Linked DNA regions of Homo sapiens. The protein of the gene in region 2 purifies or fractionates together with the protein of the main gene of each other region. This does not show direct contact. Each region holds a gene or a part of one and is shown on either strand. Other genes may lie near its edges.

Evidence for each region.
Region 1: the proteins of THAP2 (region 2) and CTNNBL1 purify together in Homo sapiens (affinity purification with mass spectrometry; 3 studies listed by BioGRID and IntAct, with this or other methods). This does not show direct contact.
Region 3: the proteins of THAP2 (region 2) and TRIM71 purify together in Homo sapiens (affinity purification with mass spectrometry; 3 studies listed by BioGRID and IntAct, with this or other methods). This does not show direct contact.

The regions. Positions count from the first base shown.
Region 1 is NC_000020.11:37,774,016-37,781,129, forward strand, and holds part of CTNNBL1 (beta-catenin-like protein 1), read left to right. Parts: intron 1-3,329; coding exon 3,330-3,402; intron 3,403-3,638; coding exon 3,639-3,697; intron 3,698-5,171; coding exon 5,172-5,320; intron 5,321-7,114. UniProt on the Homo sapiens protein: Component of the PRP19-CDC5L complex that forms an integral part of the spliceosome and is required for activating pre-mRNA splicing.
Region 2 is NC_000012.12:71,674,277-71,681,234, forward strand, and holds the end of THAP2 (THAP domain-containing protein 2), read left to right. Parts: coding exon 1-122; intron 123-2,412; coding exon 2,413-2,832; 3' UTR 2,833-6,368; downstream 6,369-6,958.
Region 3 is NC_000003.12:32,890,886-32,897,999, reverse strand, and holds the end of TRIM71 (E3 ubiquitin-protein ligase TRIM71), read right to left. Parts: coding exon 6,189-7,114; 3' UTR 176-6,188; downstream 1-175.

The DNA.
Region 1 (7,114 bases), on a different chromosome or scaffold from region 2:
GATTTTCCAACCTCAGCCTCCCAAGTAGCTGGGACTTCAGGTGCACACCACCACACCCAGCTAATGTTTGTAGTTTTTTGTAGAGATGAGGTCTCACTATGTTGCCCAGGCTGGTCTTGAACTCCTGGGGTCAAGTGATCCTCCCGCCTCAGCTTCCCAAAGTGCTGGGAGTACAGGTGTGAGCCACTGCGCCTGGCCACATACATTATTTCTAATCCTCACAAACAGCCCTGCCAAGAGGGTGCAGCTATCCCCAATTTACAGATAAAGAAATCCCAGAGAGAGAGGAAATGGTGTTGCCCAAACCACATGGGAACCACGTGAGAGAGCCTGTGAGCATTGGGCCTTGGCATCTTTGAAGCCACCTCCTCTTGCCAAGCTGCTTCTCAGCTGGCACTGCTTTTAGGTTCTGAAGCATTGCAGAGCTCAGCGTTGGGGAGTTATCGGGCCTCATCATTTTGGTTTCCTGATTAGATTCTTCCTTCATGCCAATTTCTCAGTCAGAACTTATATTTTAATTTAAAAATGATGAAGTTATCAGTCTGGTTTTTAAAAACTTACTTTGGTTAAATTGGAAACTCTTAGTAGTGTCTTACAGCAAAAGGTGGAGATTTCCTGTGGAACCAAGAATTCTCAGTAGCAAGAAACTCAGCTGGTCGGTGCCTGTTATGTATACACCAGTTCCCTTAGTACAGCCACTTCATGAGGAAGATATTAATTTGGCCAGTCTCATAGCTGGTAACTGTTAGAGCTCAGATTCTAATGCAGATATTTCTGGTTATGGTTGTCAGAAAAACTTGTGGTACCTACTGTGTGTTAGGTACTTTCATATTATGTTTTTAAATTCTCATAGTAACTCTCCAAATAAGTGGGATTTTTTTTCTATTTCTTTTTTCTTTTTTTCATGTCAGTGCCCTTAATCAAAAAAGTGCTATTTTTTATTTTCATTTTACAGATGAGGAAACTGAGACTGAGAATGTTTCTTGGGTCATAGATTCCCATTGTCAGCTTACAGCATTCTTAGTGTCTCAGTAATTCTGTTTTTACAGCACCGCTATGCCAAAAAGTACCTAATAGTCTCATTTATTAAGTAGTTATGTCCAAACCATTTAATATATATTTATGTCCTTACAATTTATTAGCCATTTGAGAAGATAATACACACAAATTGAAAGAAAAAATATTTTTATTTCATTCTTAAATATCATAGTTACTTCCTAATGGTATGTGTGCCTTTTGGTACTGCTCAAATCCTTAAACCTTAGGATCAGATTGAACGCTACGACCATCATTCTGATTTCACATCGATTTTCACAGTTATTTTTGTCAGAGCAGCTATCCAAACGCAGCTCCACAAAGATATGATGTCACCAGAAGAAATGTAACTTGAGCTCCTGGTTAATGCAGTGTTCAACAGATGTCACATTTCACTGTGTTCTCCTTGAAAATTTAACATATCCTGTGGTGAATTAAATATGACACCCCAGTTGCCACAGCGCAAAGTTGGAGAACTGCAGATTTGAGTCAACCTTAGGTGTGTCTAATGCCAGATCTGTGTTTTATTTTCCTTTTTTAAAATTTGATATTTCTACAAAATTAATTTTAATTCAGTGTAAGGTTTTTAAATGCCACAACAGTGGACAGAGTTCAGATCTAAGTTACCCCTGTTTGTTCTCTTGCTTAATTCTGTGTCTTCCCTATAGCAGGTGCCTAATAAGTATTTATTGAAAGGAAGAAAAACTCCCCCCAACTTGAAAACAGGAGCTTACAAAATTGAATAAAGGACAAGAGGCATTAGATCCACAGAAAGGCCATGGCTCTAGTGACCTACTGTCTTTTGGCTTCTTTCAGTTAAGTGTCTTGTTTTAAACAAGAACCATGGCCCTTGCAATGCTAATGTATAAGTTGGTGTGGCTTAAATCTTTTAAAATATAATAGCAGTACTTGGAACTTACATAATTTGAGTGGGAAATTTTATTCGCAAATCCTTGATTTTGATAGAGATGCTTACTCCTTGGCTTTTCACCTTCATGTTTTGATTTTCGTTAATATGAAACCATTTTTCTTAAAGTGAAACATACCACAGGTTGCATTTAAGCCCTGACTATTATGCTGAATTTCTTGAAACAAGGCTTCAAGCTCGCCCAGGGAGCATACCTTACATTTAGCACATGTAAGACCTTGCATTTATAGATCTTTTAACCTAAGATGGTCATACTTGGTTGACCTCCTGAAACCCTGTAGGCTGCACTTAGCTTGATGAGGAAGACGTGCACAGAAAACTGAAATGATACTGAATATTGCTTGATTAGGTACAACTCTTCCTCTTTAAGTATAAAACCAATATCTAAACAGATCTGTGAATGGCGGTAAGGTGACGGAAGTGTTAGTTCCAAGATAAACACTTCCCTTGTCTTTTCCAAGTACAGAAATTCTTTGTCATTTCAAAAACACAGATAGGTAGCAAAGGTTGCTGCTGATTAATAATCATTGTTTACATGCCTGCATTTTAAGGATCATGGGCACCATAAATAAAAACACACCACTGAGACTCGCTCCTCTCTATGCACCTTTATCCAGGGGGCAGTGATAATGGTGAGATATTTAAGTCTCACTACCGAAGCAACACTGAGGACAGCCATGAAAGATAGTCTGTGCAGTAGATGTGTCCCCTCTGAAACTCCCAAATAGCAGAGCATGCAGCGGGGAAAGAATTGTGGGTAGTAATTTGGGTGTTAAAATATTAACACATTTTTGCATATTTAATGTGGTTTCTGTTTTAAGTAGTAGGCAGATTATGGCATGCAAGCAGATAAGTTTATGATTTCAAATTAAATTTTAAGCATTAAAAAAATCCAGAAGGAACTACTTTGTGATAAATACATTCAGTTAATCAAGAATTGCTTTCTTCTCTGCTCATATATTAACTAATTTATAGCCTAATTTCATGATTGTAACTTGTGAATTAAGCTTCATGGTGAGTTTTAATCTTAAAAGTTCAAAACTCTCATTCATCTAGTTCACATTTGGGTACTATGGGCTAGACATATATAATCTCTGGACTCAAAATGGGAAATCTTGGAAGTCTTCACCGAGGAGGTAACCTTAATACCTGGGCATTAAGAGTGTGAGAGCCATTGTTTCAATCTGTCACTTTACTTGGTTCTGGTCTCTTGAGAGCAGAGGCAGACGTTTTTACCCTTAACTGCCTTTTCCTTTTCTAACTTCTGCTTCTCTCTAACTCAGATCATAGTACTCGTGAAAAATTTGTCCTGGGGAAGGAAGCAAGACCCCTTAACATTTTTCTCATTTCTCCTATTTCCCCATAGGCAAAGATGCCTTTTGATGCCAACAAACTGTATTGCAGTGAAGTGCTGGCCATATTGCTCCAGGACAATGATGGTGAGGCGCCCTCTCAGTATTGATATTCTGTTAGGATAGGAGCCAGGCTTGTTTCAGATCATGACAGCAAGCTCTCTTGCCTTTGGCATCCCCTTGCTCTCCCTCTCACTCCCTGTGCTGCTTTTGTACTCTGTCAAGCTGTATTGATTTTGTTTGCTGATGTATCAGTGTTAGACGGCTGTAAAATCTGACAGTTAGGTTCATTTTTTTTCTTCCTCTATTTTTTTCCCCTTTAGAAAACAGGGAATTGCTTGGGGAGCTGGATGGAATCGATGTGCTTCTTCAGCAGTTATCCGTGAGTAATTCTTATGCTTCCTGTCTGCTGTAAGATACATGGTCTGCTTTGAATGGGAGGTGGAGCTGGAAACTGTGGGAAGGAATAAGCCATGTGCTGCAAGCCATATGGAGCATGTTGGCAGGTTTGAGGGTTATACGGAGGGACATGGTTTGCCTCCTTTTCTTAGTCATTTGCTCTTTATGACCAGACATCACTGTGTATCAGTTCTGAACTTTCTTCATCTTCTGATATGATATTGTCAACTCAAAAAAGATGTGCCTCATGCTTAAGTGTGTATGTTCTGGGCCAAGCATACCAAATTATTTTCATTTGACCCACTGCCAAGATTATTCACCAACCTTCCTTTCAATCTGCTGTGAAAATGGAGTATGTTCATTTAGGATCTGAATAAGCTCAAGGAGTACAAGTTCCACTGCAGTGGGGTGGGGGTCAAGGGGAGGATAGGGGAGGATGTGGTGCTGAAGGCTGGAGTGAGAACTTGGAAACTGCCATTTTCTCACTGTAAGAAATGTAAATCCAGTTGAAATGTTATTCTGCTGGCATTCTGAAAATACTGTTAAGATTTCCTCTTACAAGTTTTAGCTGTGTTATTCTAAAAACAGGACTGAAAATAGATCATTTGGATAAAATCTTAAGAGTGTTGGGAGAGTCTGAGATGTCAGTTTGCATACAGCTTCCATCTTGGTGCCAGCAGCCTGAGTGTCTTGGCCTCCACCCCAAAAATAGAGCTTTGAAATGTGAATCTGTTTCCAGTTCTGGGAAGGTGCTTAGTCCTTTTCCTGTGAGATTATTGATCTTCTTGTAGTAGACTGTATGGGTATGCATATACAGTTTAAAGGCTTCTCTTAACATGCCTTACATCTCTGGCAAAAAGAAAACTAATGCTGTAAGCCCTTCCCATGAATTAAAGCCCCAGCTCCCCTGTGAGGGAATTCAGTAGCCTTGGTTGTCAGGAAATGCTTCCTTATATTGAGCCACGATTCAGCCCTCTGGATTGTGGTTGCTTTTAGAAGGGAAAGAAATGAGATATGGTTGGGTTGGGCAAGTGGAGGGCTTTGAGGGGAGTTGGCAAAGTTGTTTCTCATCCTGGATAATGATTTCAGGGGTGTTCACTTCATTTAGTTTTATATGTCCTTTATGGAGTTTTTCTGTATCTGTGTTATATTTCACGATAAAAAGATTTTGTTTTTTATTGGGTTTTGGTTTTTAAAAAAATCTGCTTGCCTGGAACTGTCAATTACTGATGGACCCAGTGGTCAGTAGAGTGTTTTGGCTTTTTTTTTTGCATGTATTTAATATATGTGAATCATTTAGTTTCTCTAAAATGGAAACTGATGAGAATTTTGTTTGGTGAGCTTCTGTTTCCTCAGTCGTAGAGTTATGACCCACAGGTTTTAGGAATTGTTGGATGGAGGCTCATGAAAAGACATTCTCTTATAGCTCTGTGCTTTGTGCTGTTTTTGCTTGACAGGTGTTTAAAAGACACAATCCCAGCACGGCTGAGGAGCAGGAGATGATGGAGAATCTGTTTGATTCCCTCTGCTCCTGTCTAATGCTTAGTTCCAATCGTGAGCGCTTCCTGAAGGGCGAGGGTCTTCAGCTGATGAATCTCATGCTCAGGTATGTTTCGAATGCCCTAGTTCTCCCACCTTTTTTGCCTGACTTTTCACTGTTAGCCTGAATTCAAGAGCATGTAGCTATGATCATTTATTCTGTTGGGTTTCCTAGACTTTACCCTGAAGAGTAAAGTCTTCAGGCATGGGGGGATGTGTTTGTATAGGTATGTGGTCTTTCCTAAAGTTAGAGTAGATGAATAAAAAGTATATTGTGTTCTGTTTGTGCCCTACTGTGGTGGTTGCTAATACGTCCACTCCATTGAAGGACATTGGTGTTTTTCCTCTCCTTCCCATAGTGTGTTAGTTTTGGGGAAATCTAGCCATTACTTCTAAACTTGGACTAATTTTCTGTATATATCACATAGACCTATCTATGCCATATGTTTGTATTTTTATTGAAAGCAGCGTATCATTCATATTTTTCACTCCTCATTCAGTAATGAGTTGTACATGTGCTGTATGCCTAGCTTAGGAAATATGAAAACGTGCAAGACAGTTCTAGAAACTTTTATTTATAGTACTTTCCTTGTGTGTCTTATTATTTATACGCTAATTCCTGAAAGTGGATCTTATATTAGTTTCACAGTTATTTTATAGAATCCTAAAGTTAGAAGCAAAAAGGGGAGAGGAAGCTTATGTTGATAACTCTTGAGACCCTGTCTAGGAAGGGGAGTAGAGAAGTGTGTGGGGGAAGGCTGAGGGGATAACCAGACTGTGGTATAGGGTCAAGGGACTTAAAAAAAAAAATCGAGCATGTTTATGTGGTTGGAAGATTCTAGTCATTATGAATTGTGCCCTACAGAGGAGCAAGTTGAGATTTAAAAAAAAAAAAAACAAGAAAAAAAGAAATGGAGCCAGAGTCTGCTGTCTTAAAACTTCAAGTATACTGAAAGTTCTGTTGAACTAAGATATTTCTTTGGAAAGGTTTTTCATAAATGTGATATATATTTGTTAAATAGAATTTAGAATACTAACATATAAAACTGCTATTAAAACATTGACAAGGTACTATGTTAAGTACTGGGCATACACAGAAATACCTAAGACAGAATTTCTGTCTCCACAAAGTTAGGAAAACAGTTCTGTGAGCTAAACACAGCCTGTCTTTGGGTGTATATTTTCTTCTAGTCTTTTTTTCTATAATTTTTAACAACTTTTTAAGCCTGCCACACATAGGATTTTCTGTATTGCTACATTTCAGACATAAGATGCTGTTTCCCATGCTGTGAATAATCTTCATGAGAGTTTTCAGTAACTGCATCATGGCCTCTAAGGGACTGTAGCTTACTTAGTATTCTTCTGTTGTTGGCATTGAGGATATTTCCAATGTTTTGCCGTTATAACAAATTCTACAGTGACCATTTTTGTGTTTAAAATGATGTTAGGATTATCCAGGTACAGTAAGTCCTCACTTAACATCATCAGTAACATTCTTGGAAACCATAACTTTAAGCGAAATGATGTATAATGAAACCAGTTTTTCTGATCATTGTTATAACGGTGTTATTTGAGGATCTGACCTCCTATATCCCGTTTTACTTAAAGTTGCCATTTCCAAGTCTATCTATGATGTTAAGTGATGACTTACTGTGTATATTTCTAAAATATATTATCTTTAAAAGGCTTCTGGGGGGCTGGAGGCACAGTAGACCTCTTCATTTGTCCAGTGTGTACCAGACCTTGCATTGACCAAAAGTCTTCCTTTGAGGAATTGCTTTTAAAAACAATTTTTAAAAAAATGCAGAGAGGAGCATGAGAAATTACTCAGAGGCCTTTTGTGTTTAGCTGATTTTTGCTA
Region 2 (6,958 bases):
ACACTTTTCTTTGTTCAAAGCACTTTGAAGCCTCCTGTTTTGACCTAACAGGACAAACTCGACGACTTAAAATGGATGCTGTTCCAACCATTTTTGATTTTTGTACCCATATAAAGTCTATGGTAGGTAATGTTACTCTCCTTTTGTTAAAACCATTTTTAGAACTCATTCCTTTTTGTTTATGCAGTTATTAACTGAAATTCATTTATAGTGATATGCCTCAAAAAAGTTGCAGACCTTCCTCTTGTACAGTAAAGGTACAGGCTAGAATCAGAGTTTGGGTCTCCTGACTCCAATATTCTTTCCCCAATCCAAATTGTTTTACTATATTGGAATTTTACATTATTACCCATTATTATTAATAATTGCACCATTGGTAAAACTGAAAAATCATATGAGTAATGAAACCTCCAGCATCACTGTGCTCTGATTTTAAAATGACATACAAATAACATGTGCAAAGTACTTTAAGAGCACACAGCCAGAATTAAACCAAAGAATGTAAGTTCAGAGGGAGGCAGGCATGACAGAAATCTTCAGAGAGCTTGGGCATTCAGGGTGGGCTTTTGAAGCCTTGGGAGTTTAAAATAGAGGAAAGGGAACTTGGCTTTGCACAGAATAATTACAGTTGCATAATGAGAACAAAAACGAGTGGGTTGAGGCGTGAGTAGGAAATGTTAGCAAGTGATATTTAAAGGAAAGAATGAAGAAAAAATGAAGCAAAAAAAAGTAAATTAAAAAAAACGAAAGAATAAAGGTATAAGATGAATGAATTAAAACAATGTTTTATCTAGTTAGGGAAGATCTGACCAGAGAGGAAAACCTAGCTGGGAAAGACAGGGTCACCAAGAGTAAGAAAGGGTAAAATGAACACAAATAGTTTAGCTTTGAAAGGGAGGACAAACATGTTTTCCTCTGAGGAAAAACTACTGTTTCTCTTGTTTGTAACTGTTAAACTTTTAAATGTATATGAGTTATTATCTGAATGGAGACGAGGTTGTGGTAAGCTAATTACCACTGATGTTAGAAAAGCTCCAGGAGGACAAGAACTTAGTCTTTTTCACACGTGAATCCTCAGCACCTCAAACAGTGCCTGGGACATAGTATATACTCAAATACTTACTGAATTTGAAATACACCTTATTTTTGACATTTTGATAATTTATTTATTTAATAAATACAACTAAACTTTCCATTATGCCAGAATCTAAGCTCAGTGCTAGAGATACAAAGATCAAAAAAGAGTTCCTGTCAATTCCCTAGGCAGAGGGACTAACTGTAGGTTTCATGAGGATAGGAACCACATCATCTTATTTGTTCAGTGTTGTGTCCCCAGGAATGCATAGTATGTGTTTCAATAAATGTTTAATGAATTAAAGACACAGACTTATGAGGATATGATATAATCTGGAAACTCCCAGTGGCTTAGTATTGCTGGAGTATAAATCAAGATGGTAAATTGCAGAATGGGGTGAGATCCTAAATTGTATAGTATGCCATCTAAAGATTTATTTTTCCTTTAGATAATAGATAGGCAAAGAATAATTTGGCCAGAATGGAAAAGTCAAATATTCTAGAAAAATTATTCTTATGGCAGAATGTGGATTAATGAGGATCAAAATGAAGTGGAGAGATCAATAAAGAATAATATAGTCAGAACAGATATGATACGGGCCCAGTGTAAGTAGTGACATTAAGAATGACAGTGTTCAGCCTTATTGTGGAACAGAGAAAGGAAAAAAAAGAATGACGGAGAGGAGAGGATTCATGGTAGGAATATTTAGTGGGTAGAATTAATAGGACTTGATGACCATTTGAATGAAAGAGATAAAAGCAAAAAAAGTCTCCTGATTTTGGCAAATGTTCCTAGCCAGATTTTAAATCCTTGAAGATATAACCATCAAAAATTAATAGGTAAATCTGTTTAGAAGCTTGGTACTTAAGAATACATTTCTACAGATCCTTCAGTTTTCATTAAATAGGACCCTGGGTCTAAAATATTTATCAAATTGAGAAAAGGGTATTTAATTAAAAGGGGATCAAATTAATATCATAAATAATATCTACATATATTGTAAATTGACCTTAGTAAATTGCAAAGGATCTTTAAAGTCTCTATAGAGTCATAGTCAATAATTTGGAAGAAACCTTGGACGTCCATTGTCTATTTCCAAATCAGTGTTTGAATCTCTCTGGATATGGGACAAAAAGAAATAGGTGACTAGAGTTAATTCAACCAGTTAAAAAACTTAATCTTGGATTACATGAGATGGCTGCTGCTGTTTCCTATTAAAGTTTTAAAATTGACTTTTAAAAGAGCAGTTTAAATACTGTTATCCAAAACTGGACACTATGTGCTTATTTGTGATATTTCATAATTTATGTTCAACCCTCTAATTTTATTCGGCTCAGAAACTCAAGTCAAGGAATCTTTTGAAGAAAAACAACAGTTGTTCTCCAGCTGGACCATCTAATTTAAAATCAAACATTAGTAGTCAGCAAGTACTACTTGAACACAGCTATGCCTTTAGGAATCCTATGGAGGCAAAAAAGAGGATCATTAAACTGGAAAAAGAAATAGCAAGCTTAAGAAGAAAAATGAAAACTTGCCTACAAAAGGAACGCAGAGCAACTCGAAGATGGATCAAAGCCACGTGTTTGGTAAAGAATTTAGAAGCAAATAGTGTATTACCTAAAGGTACATCAGAACACATGTTACCAACTGCCTTAAGCAGTCTTCCTTTGGAAGATTTTAAGATCCTTGAACAAGATCAACAAGATAAAACACTGCTAAGTCTAAATCTAAAACAGACCAAGAGTACCTTCATTTAAATTTAGCTTGCACAGAGCTTGATGCCTATCCTTCATTCTTTTCAGAAGTAAAGATAATTATGGCACTTATGCCAAAATTCATTATTTAATAAAGTTTTACTTGAAGTAACATTACTGAATTTGTGAAGACTTGATTACAAAAGAATAAAAAACTTCATATGGAAATTTTATTTGAAAATGAGTGGAAGTGCCTTACATTAGAATTACGGACTTAAAAATTTTGCTAATAAATTGTGTGTTTGAAAGGTGTTTTTTGTTTTTGTCTTTTTAAACTACTGTTAAAAGAACAGCTTATGATAAGTAATATGTTTAACTTAGAGAAGAATTTTTTCCTGTACCAAAGTTGGCATATTGCATTCTAAATAAGATGCTAAATAAGAGTTAACCAACATTCAACATGACCTTAAAACTGCTGGGTTTTGTATTAATTAAATTATAATTGGCACTGTGATTTGAAAAATTTATAGAAAAAAAGGTACAGGGCAAGTTTTTAAATTAAAACTTTCTATATTTTGTTTTACCAGTAAAAGTGAGCTTATCATGGCCTCTCTCATAAGAATGATTTTAAAATAGGTTGTAAAATATTTTGAAAATATTTGAATGTGAAGTACCATTGAGTCATCCAAACTAGGTAAGGCCTCAAGTACTTTAAACTAGTAAAATCTAGTAGCTGATAATATTCACCTAAGTAAGTGTTGTAAAATAATTCAGAGTTCAGGACCTAGCTTAGATAAATGTATACTACTCTTTTTCTCATAATAAAAATCTTACATTTCCAACTTCAAAATTGGTGCTTCCATATTTGTTGATAACCAAAACTCCTAAGGTTTTTTGTTTTCTTTTTAACTACTTTCCAAATGCATACTATACCTCAGAAATAGTGTATCAATATAGTGGGCTTTTTTTTTCCTCTTCATAAACCCACAGTAAAATTTAATCACAGGAAACTACTTATATCTTCACACTTTGTATTGATAACTTAAAATGGCATCAGTTTATCTTAGACATCAGCTTGCTTTTTATCTCCTTTTTTAGTGAGTGAAATAGAGCAACTAGCATGCCTGTGTTCCCAGCTACTTGGGAGGCTAAGGTGGGAAGATCAATTGAACCTAGGAGGTTGAGGCTATAGTGAGCTGTGATTGCACGACTGCACTCCAGCCTGGGCAATGGAGTGAGACTCCTGTCTCTAAAACAGCAACAACAAAAATAAAGCAACCATAGTGCATAAGGGAAATTAAATGTTCCCTATAGAAATATGTGTATGTCTGTGATAGTGGTATGCAAATGCTAATTATTTTATAAAATAAAAGTTCAGAACTATTCTTATCATTGCCACTTGAACAATTAAAGGGTTTGCTTTATTTCACTAATGTTTAATAGGAACCCTTTGCTTCAAACAGCTTTGTTGAAATCATGTAAAAATTTGTTAATAGAGAATCAAGTTATTTAACTCAACTTATTTAATTCAAGCTTGTGATACTAACATACAAAGGTAGCATAAACCAAGTCATAAATTGCTGTAATCTTTCCTGTAAAGTAATAGCTACTTCATGATTTTTTTAAAAATTTCATTTTTTTGCTATTTAGGATTGCATTTGCTTGGCTCCTAGTAACAATTCTTTTACAGTATTAGCACTCTCTTTACTAAGGAATGCCTCCCAAGGAAATGCAAAGGTAGGAAAAGTCTCTTAGAATGCCCATGAGGTATTTAAAACAGATATTTATGAAAATCTTTTTGTGAATGTTATAAATCTTGCTAGTTATTTTATCTTTATCTTAAGTATTAGATGTAGTTCCTTGGAATTGTCATTACATATTTATTTTTTTCTAGTATGGTTTCAAATAACTTTTTGCCAACATATAATCATCATCAAACATTCACTGACCATATCTATTTTATAACTCAAAATAAGTTGGACAAATAATCATTTTAATAAAAACTATTTTTTCCAAGTATAACCACTGTCATGTGGTTCACCCTTCACCCCAGATACAAAACACTTATTTGTGTAGCCCAGTTCCCATCTACAGTAATACCTTGAAACCTTAATAAATTTTAAAAATCATAAAAATAAAATATTGTAAAATACAACAAATTTTGGACAAGGTTACTTCATCTTCATTCATTATTACCTGACAGTATTAAACTACTACTCAATAATTTTAGAGTAAACTTTTCTGTGTTTTCTCCGTGATTTTCATTGTGCTGTCCTGACAACATGCTCCAAACTCTTTGCATCAAATTGTTTTATTAACATACATTTGTCTACCTTAAAACTAGCTTTATTCACAGAGAAAAACCTAAAAGGAGTCTATTAAAATGCTGCTTTCAGTTTGATAGTTTTTTTTTTAATCACTCTGACCATAAACTAACTGAAATTATAATGGATTTTTTTTCCTCTCCCGGTCACAACACAGATCTTCTGTTCATTTGTTCTCTGTCTACTGGGCACCAACCTCTACAAAGAACCAGCCAAAGGCTAGGTACTTGATATAAAAAGGAATATTACATTATTTTCTGCCCTCAAGTTGCTCTATCTCCTGAAAGAAACAAGTAATATTTATAATACAATATGATAAATGCTACAAAAGAAATAGCTGTAAAGTCCTTTGGTAAATGCTGTTGAATTGGAATTCAGTAAGAACTATAAACTGTAGACCTTTTTATAATCAAATGCTTTTGTCTTGAAACAAAACAGATTCCTCCTTATATTGACTTAGCAAAGGAGGTACAAGGACATTGGCATTTGACCTGAATTATGGTGTTTTATTGAATGAGCTATAAGACAACATTTTTACCCTTTAAAATGAACACTGAACAAATGTGTTAATGGTATCTTTGTTAAAAGGAAAACATAGCTATAAATAAAATACTACATCGAAATCCAGCACTGGAGTTCATTTGAAATTTGATATTTTGTGTAAAATAACAAACCTATTAACACAGATTTTTAAAATAACTCAGAATCGTATAAAGCACTTTGGTACTTATTTGTTCTCTTTTCCCTTACATTCTGTGTGGTAGGTGGTATTATCTCTGATTTACACATGAAGACATCCTTGTTAATGCAATTTATTTATTCATTCGGGCATTTACTGTGTGCCAACTTGCAAAAGGAATAGAAATGTCTGTGATCTAGATAGTTCTAGATTGAACATAGATTTTCTGCCAACAAATCCTCTCTGCTGTTCACATTATCCTTTGTTTAACGTATGAACCAGGTTACTAAAATAGGATAAATCATGTGTCTTAAAATATGAAAATAGTAAAGTCTTTGAGGTCACTTGATCTTCTCTAAGTAGACTTTATAATATTGTGTTTTATCTCATTTCTCAATATTAGAATACGGGTAGATTTTAATTTTGCTATAATATAGGAAATGGTTCATCTTTGTACCAAAATATTGCATTCTTCTGATATTTAGACAGTTGGAAACTTTCTAAAATTGAGGATTTTGTAGTGTATACTAAATAATTGCATATTCAAAAAAATGTATTCTGAGTATGGTGATATTAAACATTTTTCCCCAAGGAAATTACTGTCATGCCTGTTATTTCTAAAAAATGTACATAAATATTTCTGTGAAAGTTCTTTTACATTGACCCCCTGAAAGACTTCTGTGAAGTCCTTCTCCCTAAACTGAAGCAAATGGTAGAACAAAGATAATGTAAAGCCTTGAAGAGAAATTATTTTCATTTTTGTTGCTCACATTATATCTAAATGTACATTATAGTTTATTTGCACTGTTTCAGATAATAGGCAATCTAGACAAGATATATGAACGGCTATGAAAATGGTAACAGTCTATCTCTATCCTGACCATAATTTGAGGCTCACACAAAAATGTATTTGCAGGCTAGGTACAGGAGTTCATGCCTGTAATCCCAGCATGTTGTGGGGCTAAGGCGGGTGGATCACTTAAGGCCAGGAGTTTAAGACCAGCCTGGGCAACTTAGCGAGACACCCATCTCTACAAAAATAATGAAATAAAAATTAGCCAGGCACAGAGGCATGTGGCTGTAGTACCCTAGCTACTCAGGAGGCTGAGGCAGAAGGACTGCTTGAGCCCAGGAGTTCAAGGCTGCAGTGACTCTGATCGCACCACTGCACTTCATCCTGGGCAAC
Region 3 (7,114 bases), on a different chromosome or scaffold from region 2:
TATTTAAAAATGCTCCCATCACCTTTTTCTTTTTGAAGGCACCGCATGGGCCCAATCTGGCCCACCAGTCACAGTACAGCTCCTGGACTGTCTACCTCAGGGACTCCCTTTCCATCCAGTACAGTGCACATACCCTTATTTACTATGGATTAAAGGATCACACAGACACACTGTAGCCATGGAAAAACCCTCGTTTATTTGATTAAACAAAAATAAAATAAGCTGCATAGGAACAATTTTAAAGTCCAAAGAGACACCAACTTTGTTTTAAGGCTGTAGTAGCTGATACAGCATCTCCTTGCTACCTCCTCCAGCCTTCTCTGTGGACCACAGTGATACATTCAGAAGCCTGTTAGCTAACACAGGAGTTTTTGAACACTTTTCCATTGGTTCTTCACCTGCTCATTGCCTGTCATGCCTGCGGCCTGCAATAGTAACATTTAAGATTTAAAATGTGAAAGCCAAAAGAGGAGGGGGGAAAAAAACCCAAAATCAACCAAACAAAAACTCACTTTTGCCTAAAGGTTTGGGGGGAAATCTTCATTTCCCCACCCATCTACTGCATTGATGGGATTCACATTACCACGGCAGTGCCCATTTAAAAGTGGCAAATGGCAGTCAGCACCCCACCCCGGACAGGCTTGCAGTGTGGTTTCTGCGGCCAGGGGAGTTACTACGGTAGTGCATATTCCTTATATCATGTCTGCCTTGGACAAATACAAATTAAGAGGTTTAACTTAGTCATTCTAACATAAGGCAACTTGCCCACATTAATTCCCCCAATTGTTTATTTAAAAAAAAAAAAGACAAAAAGACTCAACCGAGTCACATGTTCTGCAGTTAAAAATTAAAGCATTTTGCTGACCCGGCATGAGAGCTAATGGACAGTATTAAGCAAGATTCAGTTTAACAACCCTCCCACCCACCCAAGTATAACTAACATGCTAGTTAAAAAACAACACCCCTTACCCACCCACCCTTACCTGCATCGATTTTAGGAGAAAAGGGAAAAAAAGAAAGGAATCTTACCACCCTAAAAGCAAGAAAACCCCAGAAATGTGAAAAATCTTCCTCTGAAGAAAGACAACTACACAGACTGCTAGAAACACAAAGAACTTACAGAGTTACAGAGCTGGTTATTTAAAGAAAGTAAACACTTTGCTACACACATCAACATTCAGTCAGTGTGCTCTGAGATAGAGTCTTAAGAAAAATACTACCTGAGCTTGTAAGTTAATACAATCATTAAAAGGAGGTCTAAGACCATGTGGATACACAAAACTTTTAGAACCATTATTGGTTAAATGATGATGGAAAATATCCCACCAGGCTGGCTTGTTAACCCGTAAGATCAGTTTTAAAAATAGACATCATTGAGGTATTTCTTCACCATGACATTTATAAGCCCCTCATGATAATGACAGTGGTCTTAGGACCCTCCTCTCTTCCAAACAACCAAAAATTAGGGCAGAAGAGAGGTGGGAGGGTCAATACAGTATATCCTGGTAATGTGCTTCTCAACTTTATCAAGTATTTAATAAACAAGGAAAAAAAAAACCCGTCAACATGTTACCTTTGGTAGAAAAAAATAAAAACAAAACAAAAGAGCAATACACACTTCAACAGTCACTGCTCAGTCAAAACAGTGATTGTTGCAACATCATGGTGATGAACGTCCTGCCGGGTCCAGAGAGCTACAAATACAATCATGAAGTCAAGAGGATTCTCATTCCCTTCAAATATTTGATGTTTCCAAGATCTAGACCTTTAGAATTGCTCCTAAAGGGTATTATTTGCAGACATTCGAAATACAGATAAAATATTTTTCTCTTGAAGAGAAAGAGACCTAAAGGTCTTTATTTGTAGTTAAGTCCTCCAATAGGTCAGATTAACCAGTAGTTTCATAATACTGAACAACAGTAATGGTATGCATAATTCTTTTTGAGGGGGAAAAGCCAGATTGCTAAGAACTACTTGGATTTATGACTACATTTGCCTGACATTTCTCTTTCAAGGTAAGTAGAACATTTCTCCTGGGAGAAATCAGTTGTAGATTTATGGTAACATTTCTTTTAGAGGTAGCTTCCCACTCCCACCCACTGCCCACTGGATTAATACTATTCTTTTTGAGACCTGTCAGATGCTAACATGAGGTAGATGACTTGCCACAAGTGAGGTAGAAACTCAGCAAAAGCAGTCAGTGTGGTCTGGAATGCTGCGTCCTGTGCCCTTGGCCCTATAGAAAACCAGAGAAAGCCGTAGAGCTCTGGAGGCCCTGGCCCTGTGACACCATCACCTGCAAGTACAAGAGTGTGACTTTTATACAGCCCCAGACTGTTGGAAACTCATTCAGAGTGATGTTTTAAATATACCTTAAACATACCCTAAATACTTTTTGGCACCACTGGATTAAAAAAATAAGATCAGAAAAACAAGCCTAAAACTTTGGCATATCTTTCACCACCTACCAGAACAGAGCAATCGTAGAATCTTCCAACGAGGAAGGTAACACATATATAAACAGTATTTTGCTGCTTCAAGCCTAAAAGACTTTCCTCCTCAAATAATTAAGCTTTGGCTTAACTAGAATAAATCAGACTGAGCCGATCTCAAGCTATCTCTTGCAACTCCATCACAAAGTGCCTCAGTTCTGGCAACATTTTTGGCCCAACACGTAATTTGGATTCGGTTTATGGTACCCTTTGTTATGTGTTTCCCAAATAAGTTAGACTTAAAAGGGCATTGAGGAGTTAGTGCACTTGGGGTACAACCCAGGTCACTGTGCTCTAGTCAACTTGAGTGCCACTTGCAGCCACAACAGGGCACATGTTCTGAGACAGCATTAGATCTTGGGACCAAAAATAACACTTTTGAAATGTTAAGTCAGTGTCAAGCAAAAGTAGTTTTTACCTATGGGTTAGATGTCCTTTAAACATCTCAATACTCAAACCTATATATCCAAACCCAATGGGCATCTCCACACATAAACTGAGCTTACATCATACCCCACCCAACCCTTGCCACCTGACCAGATCAGACCTCCATGGGGACTAGTAATTGTCATACTTACTCCCCAGAAACCTTTTTATTCTCCTACCTCATAATACCCAGGACCTTATTTTTTCCATCAGGATGACGACTCCCTTCTTTGACCCAACTCCTGGCTACCTGGCATTACCCGGGCAGGAGATTATGCATTTAAACACAGGTACTTTTCACAGTTTCACACTAGGGACTGCCAAATGTTGGCTTTTATCATCTTTCTTTGATTTAGAACATTTCACATCATACAATAAACACTCTCCAAAGTGCTTCGCACCAATCCCTATGGGTCAGGAGTCAACCACGGGCAGGAAAAACCGCCAATGTTTTAAAAACAAAAGCTTTCCAAATGTGACCATGTTTCTCAAATACCAGTCATGCACCATTTTGGGTACAGAAAGGTAAGGAGATAGATATACCACCACTGAGGACAAAGAGGTAGTATCTCTGACCTACACACCTATTTCAGGGGATAGTTCTAGTTGCTCTAAGCCTGCAAATTTACAAGTCTGTAAATTAAGACCTGATAATTTCAGCCATGGAGCGAAAATCTTGGCTTTTCGATCACATCCATAGTAAAATGTCAAATAAGGAGCTCTAGTTACTGTTATGCACCAAGAACATTTCTCATTCAGGTCCCAAAATTTTCCTACATCTGGGGAAATTAGAAAGAAAAGAGCAGAATGAAAATGATGATGAAAAGATTTTAATCAAGATCCATCTCCTCAATAAAATTTTTTTCAAGCATTTAAAACCAGTTGTCTTTGGTGTTTAAAGGGTGGCTTGTTGGGCAGCTGGGGAAAGGGAAGGAAGATCAGCACCAAGTTACTCCAAAATAGAAAACAGTAAAAATGTTTAATTATATTAACTCTTTACCAAAGAACTTAGAGCTTAACGGCCAAAAGGCAACTGAATAGGCATTGGGGAAGGATTCACTATTAAATTCTACAGTAAAAGGAGCTTCTAACAAACAACATTTCCTAACACCTTCCCACCCTGTAACAGCAGCTGGGAGCCAGCAGCAGTTTGAAGCTACTTTCCAACTTTTGAATCTTTTATTGCATGCAGTTCTCCTCTGTGAGATGAGGTTTTTTTTTTCCTTCCCATTTTGGTCACTCAGAAACCCTAGAATTAAAGCAATGGGAAGAGACAGAGTAGCTTGTAGTAGTAGTAAATTAAACGTCCAAAAGAGGTGTACGGGAAAAGCAACTTGATTGACTTGTCACACTGTCCCCATCATCTCCTTTTCTATTGGGATAACAGAAACAAATTGCTCCATTTGTTAATCTGTTCTGCTCATTTAAAACGATACCCATTTTGCAATAGAAATTTCTCTTAAACAGAGGAACAGAAGTTGATCCATAAGTCTTTAAACAAGAGGTCTCCCTTGTAAGTCACTGACGTTTGTTTGAGAGTCCCTCTTTTCCCTGAGGAGGGCTCCTCCAGAATTTGGTTCTTATTTCAGTATTTGGGGCATTGCAGGAACCCACTGGGTTCTGACAAGCAGGGTATCAGCTACATCTGCTTTGCACTTGAAAGACAGACAATGCCCAGAAGCACAAGTTTTGTACCCAAGTCCAGCTTACAACCAACCAATCCTGTAAAGTGACACAGATTCTACCCCACAGTTCTGCAGTGGGAGCCTTAAATTTTCATTCTTTGGTACCGAGTTACAGGTTTAAGAAAAGACATTACATCCTACATTTCAGGTTGGGACAATTTGGTTTCTAGATCCTTTATGGTCAAAGGCCTTGGGGGGAGAGGGGGCGGGGGGATTCATGTTAACCATGAGGTCCTAAAGCATGGCCTGGGTGCAAACAATCCTATAAAAAGTGACCCAAGCAGAGGGTGTGGGACTGGGCTGTTGGTATTAATTTGACTTTCAAACCTTCTATTTCCCTGAACTTTCAAAGCAGGAAAAAATTGTGCTTGTAAAATAAAAGTTCTTTCCTTTGCCTACTCTTCTTAGGAAAAGAAACCCCTAGCACTACAGAACAACATGCACTCGCGGGTCAGGGCAGACCCTGCCCTTTCTGTGGAGTTCCTATAGTTTGGGGGTGCCTTGTTCTTTAATGTGCTCCCTGACTCCCTCAGCACACGCATGTCCACCCACATTCATGTCCACGTCAGCCCATGCCTGAAAACCCTCTCTCTGAGAACGAGGTTAATTTCCTTTTTCCTTCCATTTAACCCTTTATAACCTAACAGCAAAATAAGAAAGCATAACTTTTGAGAATATGTTTAATCAAAAATCCTGAGCTACCATCTATATACTTTTTTAAGAAACCAAAGTGTGAAAAGGAGAGGTTCTTTGGGAGGCAGTGTGTCATTTTCAGCTTTACTACTTGGGTGCAAGATGGCTTTGAAACAAACATGCACACACCCTCCCTTAAAAGAAACAAAGATTATATACCCTAAAATATGAAGGGTCTGCTTTTCTTGGCTAGCAAGCCACAGCCACAACGTCTAAGATCAAGAAACGATGCAGAAGAGGATGTTAAACACACTGAGGTATAAACAGAGAACAGAGGAAATTTCTCTGTTGCAGCATTTAAAAAGAGAAGATTTTCCAAAAAGATCAAAACAACACAACATAATCTAAACCCCATATAAACAGTATTCTCAAGAACACAGGTATTCTATAATTATGCATTTCAAATCCTATTTTTTCCATGTTTTATAGTTTTTTGTTTTTTTACTTAGTAGTTTTTTTTTGTGTTTCCTTGGCTCAATCTACAGAATACACCCCACCACACACATCCAGTGCCCTCCCAGCCATACAGATGCCAGGCTTGTGCATATCATGCCCCACGCAGGGGAAGAGGGAAATGCAAACTCCACTGAGGAGGGGAAGAGGGCCTGTTGCAGAAGGAAATGTAAAGATTTATGAGGTAGATAGAAATTATCACTTCACAGGCTCAATCCCTGCAGAAAAGATAAGTACATTCATCTGTAAAAAAATAAAGATGAGGTAGGACTTAAGCAATGTTGTACTTTTCTTGTTCTCTTTAAAAAAAAAAAAGAAAAAAGAAATTTCCCTGAGACTGTTTCTTCTTTGAAATTCAAAAAGAGAGAGAAAGAGAAAGAGAGAGAGAGAGAGAGAGACACGCACACACACCCCAAACACAGAAACCTAGGAAATGCAATTAGAAGACGAGGATTCGATTGTTGCCAAAGTCCACCACAACGATCATTCCGTCGGGGGTGATGGCGATGCCGGAAGGGCGGTCCATCTGCCCAAAGCCGCTGCCTTGAGCACCAAACTTGCACAGGAAGCTGCCGTTGGATTCAAACATCTGTACCCGATGGTTCCTGGAATCCGCCACAATGATGCGCCCTTCCTGGTCCACAGCTACCCCTTGTGGGCGCAGGAACTGCCCATTGCCTGTGCCCTCCGAGCCCAGAAAGCGTGCCGACTGGCAGTCGGGGTGAATAACCAGGAGCCGGTGGTTGTTGAAGTCAGTGACCACCAAGTGGCCCTCATGGTTGAAGGCCACACCCCGTGGGGAGTCAAAGTGCTTCCAGAGAGCCCCCTCGAAGCCATACTTGTTTAGGAAGACACCATCAGGCCCAAACAGCTGGATCCGGTGGTTCCTCGTGTCTGAGACCAGGATCTTGCCCTCAGAATTCACCGCCACATCCCAAGGGTAGTTGAACTGCCCATTCTTGGTTCCTTTCTCACCAAACTTGAGGAGGAACTGGCCCTCGAACGTGAAGATCTGGATGCGATGATTGTCCTTGTCAGCCACCACGATCCTGCGTGAGGCGTCACAGGCCACGCCGGCTGGTCGGTCGAACTGCCCAGGCCGGGAGCCCAGGGTGCCGAATTTGTGGTGGAAGGCGCCGCAGGGCTTGAACACCTGGATGCGGTTGTTGCTGCGGTCGGCGACAATGATGTAGCCCTCCTTGTCTACACTCACACCCCAAGGGCGGCAGAGCTTGCCATCGCTGTCACCCTCACTGCCGAAGCTCAGGCCCGGGAGCCCAATGCCCACGTAGCTGCGGCCTGACTTGACCACCACCTTGAAAGGGCTGTTCTCAATGTGCTGGTTGCACAGTGTCACAGATACCA